Homo sapiens: one gene and its partner. The protein of the gene in region 1 purifies or fractionates together with the protein of each later gene. This does not show direct contact. Each region holds a gene or a part of one and is shown on either strand. Other genes may lie near its edges.

Region 1 (4,730 bases):
AGAGCCTGGTGGCCAAGGGCTGTTGCCTGGCAACCGCCTCGGAGAGACAAGTTCAAGGTAAAGCCTCTGGTCTGAGCAACTTCAATGGCTGGAGGAGGAGGAGAGGAGTGGGCAAGGTGCGTTATCATCACTCCTCCCTCCCTGCTCCTGCTCACAACTGCAGAGCCTCCCCTCACCCTACAGCCCCAATGGCTCCCCTAACCCACAGATTCTAGCCCCAACCCCATACAAGCTCCTTCAGTACCCCTGCCCCTTATCACTCATTTATTCAGAGGCACCATGCTGTAGCTTCACAGGAGGTTACAGGAACAGCGTGTACAGTACCCCCTGCAGTTGTGACATGCAGTGGCCCCCTTTGTTCATTCATTCCAGATACTCCTAAGAAAGGCCACGGCAGCACTGCCAGGCCCGGGGAACGCAAGGCTGCCAGACACACGTGTGTGGGGGGACAAGCACATGCACACACAGGCTGCACGTGAGCATGCACAGGCGGGGACACCCAGTGTGGTGGGGAAGCAAGGGCTGCCGGGGCTAGGTGAGGGACCCTACCCAGGCAGCCACTCCCACCCAACGCTGGGGCCCCAGCAGTTCCTCCACTCCCACCACTTGCACACCGGCCGCATGTCACACCTCAGTGCCCATTCACTCACGGACGCAGCTAAGATGTCCCGACCACCTACTGTGCACCCTGCACTGGGCTCACACAAACCTGGACACACAATATCACACCCAGCAAAGGCAGCCACACACAGCAAACCCCACACACACCCAGACCCGCATGTTGTTGGTTGCTGGTGCCTGGCCCACCTCCCCTAGCCATTAGTAGGCTGTCCCTGACCCACCCCTGCCCCACAGGCCAGGCCAGAGTGTCCATCACAGTGCCCTACCTTCTCTCTGGCTGGAAATGTAGGCACATGACCCGCACCTGGCCAACCATGGCACCCTATCACCACGTCTTTGGTGATTGGCCCAAGGGACCATCATGTGACCTAGTTGGAGCCAATCCACTTTCTTCCCTGAAATCTGCTATTTGGATAATAGGGAGAAAGGACATCTACTGCTTTTGGATCAAGGTCTATAAGGATGTGGGCTCAGCCCCATCAAGGGTATCTTCCATGTTCCCTGAAGGACCTGGACTCTGGGAGGTCACACCCGAACAGGCCAGGGTGCACGGAGCCCACACACACCTACACATTCACACCCATCAGGACACAGTGTCTGGCGGAGAAATTGGCCCAGGCCACAGCTGTTATCAGGTGTCACCGTCTTTATTGACAAGAGCTAGAGACAGAAGCAGCAAAGGGTTTCCTAACTGGCCTCCCAGGGACCATTCTAGGACATTACTCTCCTGTCCTAGGCAGCAAGAAGGCAGGATCAGCCAGAGAAGGCCAGAAGGCCAGGGCATCCTTCCTCCCTTGGACCCTCAGATCTTCCTCAAGAAACCCCAGACCAAGTCCCAGGGCCGGGCCTCCAGCCTCCATCTCCACACAAAATGTGGTTTTGTAAACTTCCTTCTCTTCTGATGGTCCCACACTCTCCCCAAGCCCTGCCTCCCTAACCCTTGGCCTCTGACCCCCCAACTGCCCATTTCTCATGGCCTACAGTGTCCTCACCCCAAAGGACAGACACAGAGAGGCCACTTGATGGAGAGGGGGGTATAGGCCAAGCCTGGGGGTGAGGAGGGCACCCCCACTTTATAATCTGATACACCCCACCGTACCCATTGCAGTGAGCCTGGAAGTTACCTCACATGACTCATTTTCTCGTTAGATCCCAGGAGGCAGCCAAGCTGGGATTCATCTCCATTTGTTGATGGGGAAATTGAGGCCCGGAAGGCCAATGCCAGCCCAGGACCCTGAGGTGTGCTGAAGATCCAAGTCTCCAAAAGTCTGGTTCCTGTGCTTTCCCTGAGGACCCCTGCCCTCTGCAAGGGGTGGGGAAGCGGAAGGATTTCACCGGGGGTCTCACCCTCCCAGGGCCAGCCTCACCACAGCTCTGAGGGACCATCTCTGGGAGGGAGTCTAGGCCCAGCCTTGGATGGTGGCTGCTCCCCATGGTCCCCCTCCACAGTCCCACTTCAGCCTCTTCTTGTCTTCCCTGGGCCTCCCGACCTGTAGTCTCCAGGATGATAGAGCATGGGGAGGGAGCTCCCCAGTCCTCCCAATGTCCCTGGTAGCCAGCTCCACCCTAGGGCTTTATTAAGGCCTGAGCCCTCTTGGCAGCACTCTGAGGCCCCTCAGGGACGCAGGCCCTGTGCCTGTCTGTACTCTGTGCATTTGCCATTGCACCCTGGCTGTTCCACCCTGATCGTGTCCTTCCCTCAGTACTGGTTGGGTGGGGCTGTTGTCGGCAACTCAGGTTCACAGATGCTACCACTGAGCTCAGCCCAGGGGGGCCAAAGACGGCTCCAGGAAACAGATCTGTACTTCTCCTTCCCCCTCCTCATCCTCCCCTTTCCCCCTTGTCTTCCTCTTCCTTCTCCTTCCTCTTCCTCTTCTCCCTTCCTCTTCCTTCTCCTCACAGCGCTCTTCAGACACTCTGCCTTTCCATGCCAGTCCTCATGGGCTGGGTCCCTGTCTCGGTCTCCAGGAAGGGAGAATATGGGTCACAAGGAGAGGAACAGGGATGGCCCTTCCTACAAGGAGGTGCCTGGAAGCCCTCAAAAGACCTGGGAACCCCCGGGGGCCCCTACTCCAGCCATAAGACCCAACATGAGCTTCCTTGGGGATTGGGTGGCTGACCTCAGCAGGGGCAGAGCCAGGCTTTGGGTGGCCTAAGCTTATGCAGTTCGAGGTCCCTCTTTAAGAAAACGAATACAAAATGACAAGTACAAAAGTAGATGCAGGGCCTTGCAAAAGCCCAGGCAGTGAGAGACCCTGAAGCTGGACTTCATTCGCTTCCATGAGCAGGAAATTCACCTGCTCTTCCCGTCCAGGAGCACAGGACCTCCAGCATTGACTGCCTGGGCCAAAAGGGTGTAGAGGTTGTTGGGTTTTACCCAGGTGAAGCCTGAGGCCTAGAGAGGAGCAGAGCTGGTCCAAGGCCTCACAGTCGAGGGGAGGGAGCTGATCTGGGGCCTGACCATTTCTGCCCCACTCCTCCCACCGGGTTAGGCTTTCTTCTGTTTAGGTTTCCAGCCCAGCCCCCAGCAGCTCCTGTGTTCCTGACTCTGAGCCCAAGAAATCCTGGCCTTGGTTTATCCCTCTGAGGGCCAAGATTCTAGTTGATGCCCCAAGACACTCCATCCCTGGGGGGAGGCCAGTCTGCACCCACCTTTTGCCTGCTCAGCCAGGTCAGCCCAGCAACAGTGCCCTCCAAACCTCTCATCTGACATAGCTCATCCAGGCTGATGACTCCTATCCCTGAGTCACAGAGGAGAAAACAAGGCCCAGAGAGTAGAAGCAACCTACCCAAGGTCACACAGCAAGACCTGGCAGCAATAGCATCAAAGTCCAGGCCCCTCAACATCCCATCATGGGCCTGTGGCACCTTGGGAAGTAGGCCCTAGGCACACCCACGGCTTCTGCCTCTTCCTCGGGCCATCCTGGCTTTCCCCAGGCCCCTACAGGTAGCTGATGCGCATCGTGCTGGACTTCTCCCCAGTGGAAGCCTCTTGGGGTAGGAGCTGCTGCTCCTTGCTGGCCACTCTGCTGGGCGGCCGCTCCTGCCCGCTGGTGCCAGGCTGCGTGATCTGGCTGACCCGGCCGTTCATCTCCTTCCCCTTGCCCCCCTCCCTGCTCTCCTCCCCATCCTCCTCCTCCTCATCCTCCTCCTCAGTCTTCTCCGGGGGCCCCACAGTGGGCTCCTGGCTGCGCACACGGCGGGAGGGCCGCAGCAGGACCCTGCGGAAGCCCTGCTTGAAGCGGTAGGAGAGGAAGCCATAAAGGATGGGGTTGGCACAGCTGTTGGCATAGGGCAGCGCCACCACCAGGAAGTAGAGCCCAAAGAAGGCAGGCTCCTCGGGCAGTGGGCACACCACGTTGACGATGTTGAGCACGTAGAAGGGCATCCAGCAGAGCACGAAGAGCGCCACCACGGCCACCACCATGCGCGTGACCCTGCGTTCGGAGCGCCGCCGCCGCTGGCACGAGGGTGCCCACACCCGGCGCCCAGCTGAGCGCACCTTCACCACGATGAGCAGGTAGCAGAGGCAGATGACCAGCAGCGGCCCGAAGAAGCCCAGTGCGGCCGTGTAGATGATGAAGCCGGCTCGCCAGGCCGCCGCCGGCTCGGGCCACTGCATGTGGCAGGTGCTCATGCCGCGGGGCACTCCCGAGAAGACCACCACGGGCAGCACCACCACGGCTGAGGCCACCCACACAGCCGCGCTGACCGTGCGGGCCACCGGAGCTGTGCGCCAGCGGGCCGAGCGGGTGGGATGTACCACGGCCAGGTAGCGGTCCACGCTCATGACAGTCAGGCAGAATATGCTGGTGAACTGGTTGATGCCATCCACCGCCATGACCAGGCGGCACATGAGGGAGCCGAAGGGCCAGTAGGACAGGGCGTTCTGGGCGGCCAGGAAGGGCAGCCCCAGCATGAAGAGCTCGTCGGCCAGCGCCAGGTTGAGGATGTAGACGTTGGTGACTGAAGGGCTGGCCGTGTGCCGCAGGACCACATAGATGACCAGCGAGTTACCCAGCAGGCCCACCACGCACACCACCAGGTAGACCAGGGGGATCAGAACGCCACTGACGGCCAGCCCTGCCGGGCTTGGGCCCGCCGACACG
Region 2 (4,429 bases), on another chromosome or scaffold:
ATTCTGGAATGTTGTACATCTGAATATGGCACACAGAATCCTTTGTTCCCAGCAGGGAATCTACTTCACCACTGTAACTGAACACACTGACATTTTTGCTAAAACTTATGTCTACCGTAAGCTCAAGATTATTGGAAGAACATTCTAGGACTCCACAGAGAACTGAAACTTTGTGGTATTGGAGTTGAAATGAAAATGATAAAGCCCGAATCCACCTAGTTTTTATCAAATTTAAGGCATTGTTATTCCATTTTGTGCCAAAATGGCTTATATCACTTATTTAGTACTTCATGTCTGAAGTTCTCTTTCAAATTACAATCCACGACTAAGATGAAACAAAATGTTTTAGCTCAAAATTTTTAGCTGAACTAGGCAAAACTGACAATAAGTTCATACTGCTAGATAGCCACTCTCAAGCCTTCATACTAGCAGAACAGATTCAGAGATTCAGAATGCAACTAGATAACCGGTTGGTTACATTTTGTAACGCCATCATTTTCTTAGCACAATTTTATAGAGTTAAAATTGAAAATCTGTTTTACTTCAGCACTTCTATCATTGAGTAATAAAGCACTATTAGAAATACCAATACCAGCGCAGGGGCTCCCCCGCCTGTAATCTCAGCACTTTGGGAGGCCAAGGTAGGTGGATCACATGGGGCCGGGAGCTTGAGACCAGCCTGGCCAACAGGGCAAAACCCCGTCTCTATTAAAAATACAAAAAATAGCCAGGCGTGATGGTGCACATCTGTAATCCCAGCTACTTGGGAGGCTGAGGCATGAGAATCACTTAAACCCAGGAAGCAGAGGTTGCAGTGAACCAAGATTGTGCCACTGCACTCCAGCCTGGGCGACAGAGTGAGACTCTGTCTCAAAAAAAAGAAAGAAATATCACAGGAGAAAAAAACTTAAGTAGAATAAATACAATCAGATACACCATCCTCTACACCAAAAACTGTGGAATACACATCCTAACAGGTGTGCACAGAACATTCACCAAGAAAGAACAGATGTTGGGCCATAAAATAAGGCTCAACAAATTTGAAAAGACTGACATCTTTCAGGGTCTGACCACCTGGAATTATAAATCAGTTAAAATCTTTTTCACATCTCCAAATAGGTGGAAACTATATAACATACTTCTAAATAACTCATGTGTTAAAGAGAAAAACAAGGAAGCGGGGTGCCGGGGGCTCAGGCCCATAATCCCAGCACTTTGGAAGGCTGAGGCAGGTGGATCACCTGAGGTCGGGAGTTTGGGACCAGCCTGACCAACATGGAGAAACCCCATCTCTACTAAAAATACAAAATTAGCTGGGCGTGGTGGTGCATGCCTATAATCCCAGCTACTCGGGAGGCTGAGGCAAGAGAATTGCTTGAACCCGGGAGGCAGAGGTTGCAGTGAGCAGAGATAGTGCCACTGCACTCCAGCCTGGGCAACAAGAGCGAAACCCCATCTCAAAAAAAAAAAAAAAAAAAATGAAGGGAAATTAGAAAATACTTCTAACAAAATGGTAACAAAAATACAATGCCAAAACTTACGGGATGCAACTAAAGAACTGTTTCGAGGGAAATTTATAATTTCAAATGCCTACATTTGAAAAGAAGAGTTTAAAAATTAAGCATTCATCTTGAGAAACTAAAGCAAGTGCAAATTATAGTCAAAGAAAGCATAAAAAGAAATGAATTAAATAGAAAAGAGACAATAAAGACAAATGCCCTCCAACTTATTTCTTTTGCTAAAGTGTCTGATTATTCCTTTTGATAATAATAATAATAATTATTATTATTATTATTTATTTCCTGGTTCCAGATTGTGTCTTTATTCCTCTTTCTGACAGACAGCAGAGCATTTGTCTGGCATATATTCTCTCTTACCACAATATAGATGATTTTCTGTGACTTTAACAATACATACAAGAAAAAAATCACATCTTTATGCCAATACCATTCTTTCACAATACTAGAAGAACAGATTCAGAGTACAATTACATAACTGGTTGGTTACATTTTGCATCCAGTGAGTAACACCATCATCTTCTTAGTTTCTATATCTATTTATTTATTTATTTATTTATTTATTTATTTATTTATTTATTTTTGAGACCAAGTCTTGCTGTGTTGCCCAGGCTGGAGTGCAGTAGCACGAACTCGGCCTCTTCAGTAGCCAGTACCACAGGCGTGCACCACCATGCCTGGCTAATGTTTTTTGTATTTTTAGTAGAGACAGGATTTCACTATGTTGCCCAGGCTGGTCTCGAACTCCTGGCCTCAAGTGATGCGTCCGCCGTATCTCAAAATAATAAGAGCTATTTATGACAAACCCACAGCCAATATCATACTGAATGGACAAAAACTGGAAGCATTCCCTTTGAAAACTGGCGCAAGACAGGGATGCCCTCTCTCACCACTCCTATTCAACACAGTGTTGGAAGTTCTGGCCAGGGCAATCAGGCAGGAGAAAGAAATAAAGGGTATTCAATTAGGAAAAGAGGAAGTCGAATTATCCCTGTTTGCAGATGACATGATTGTACATGTAGAAAACTCCATCGTCTCAGCCCAAAATCTCCTTAAGCTGATAAGCAACTTCAGCAAAGTCTCAGGATACAAAATCAATGTGCAGAAATCACAAGCATTCCTATACATCAATAACAGACAAAGAGAGAGCCAAATCATGAGTGAACTCCCATTCACAATTGCTACAAAGAGAATAAAATACCTAGGAATCCAACTTACAAGGGATGTGAAGGACCTCTTCAAGGAGAACTACAAACCACTGCTCAACCAAGTAAAAGAGGACCAAACAAATGGAAGAACATTCCATGCTCATGGATGGGAAGAATCAATATTGTGAAAATGGCCATACTGCCCAAGGTAATTTATAGATTCAATGCCATCCCCATCAAGCTACCAATGACTTTCTTCACAGAATTGGAAAAAACTACTTTAAAGTTCATATGGAACCAAAAAAGAGCCTGCATTGCCAAGACAACCCTAAGCCAAAAGAATAAAGCTGAAGGCATCACCCTATCCAACTTCAAACTATACTACAAGGCTACAGTAACCAAAACAGCATGCTACTGGTACCAAAACAGAGATACAGACCAATGGAACAGAACAGAGCCCTCAGAAATAATACCACACATCTACAACCATCTGATCTTTGACAAACCTGACAAAAAGAAGAAATGGGGAAAGGATGCCCTATTTAATAAATGGTGCTGGGAAAACTGGCTAGCCATATGTAGAAAGCTGAAACTGGATCCCTTCCTTACACCTTATACAAAAGTTAATTCAAGATGGATTAAAGACTTAAATGTTAGACCTAAAACCAGAAAAACCCTAGAAGAAAACCTAGGCAATACCATTCAGGACATAGGCATGGGCAAGGACTTCATGACTAAAACACCAAAAGCAATGGCAACAAAACTCAAAATTGACAAATGGGATCTAATTAAAGAGCTTCTGCACAGCAAAAGAAACTACCATCAGAGTGAATAGGCAACCTACAGAATGGGAGAAAATTTTTACCATCTACCCATCTGACAAAGGGCTAATATCCAGAATCTACAAAGAACTTAAACAAATTTCCAAGAAAAAATCAAACAATCCCATCAAAAAGTGGGCAAAGGATATGAACAGACACTTCTCAAAAGAAGACATTCATGCAGCCAACAGACACATGAAAAAATGCTCATCATCACTGGCCATCAGAGAAATGCAAATCAAAACCACAATGAGATACCATCTCACACCAGTTAGAATGGCGATCATTAAAAAGTCGGAAACAACAGGTGCTGGAGAGGATGTGGAGAAATAGGAACACTTTTACACTGTTGGTGGGACCGTAAACTAGTTCAACCATTGTGGAAGACAGTGTGGTGATTCCTCAAGGATCTAGAACTAGAAATACCATTTGACCCAGCCATCCCATTACTGGGTATATACCCAAAGGATTATAAATCATGCTGCTATAAAGACACATGCACACGTACATTGACTGCAGCACTATTTACGATAGCAAAGACTTGGAACCAACCCAAATCAATGATAGACTGGATTAAGAAAATGTGGCACATATACACCATGGAATACTATGCAGCCAAAAAAAGGATGAGTTCATGTCTTTTGTAGGGACATGGATGAAGCTGGAAACCATCATTCTGAGAAAACTATCACAAGGACAGAAAACCAAACACTGCATGTTCTCACTCATAAGTGGGAACTGAACAATGAGAACACCAGGACACAGGGTGGGGAACATCACACACTGGGGCCTGTTGTGGGGTGGGGGGAGAGGGGAGGGATAGCATTAGGAGATATACCTAATGTAAATGACGAGTTAACGGGTGCAGCACACCAACATGGCACATGTATACATACGTAACAAACCTGCATGTTGTGCACATGTACCCTAGAACTTAAAGTAT

The links. The genes of interacting proteins can lie anywhere in the genome.
Region 2: the proteins of SSTR3 (region 1) and PALS1 purify together in Homo sapiens (pull-down; one study listed by IntAct). This does not show direct contact.

What each region holds. Positions count from the first base shown.
Region 1 is NC_000022.11:37,202,985-37,207,714, forward strand, and holds the end of SSTR3 (somatostatin receptor type 3), read right to left. Parts: coding exon 3,563-4,730; 3' UTR 1,253-3,562; downstream 1-1,252.
Region 2 is NC_000014.9:67,327,506-67,331,934, reverse strand, and holds part of PALS1 (protein PALS1), read right to left. Parts: intron 1-4,429. UniProt on the Homo sapiens protein: Plays a role in tight junction biogenesis and in the establishment of cell polarity in epithelial cells.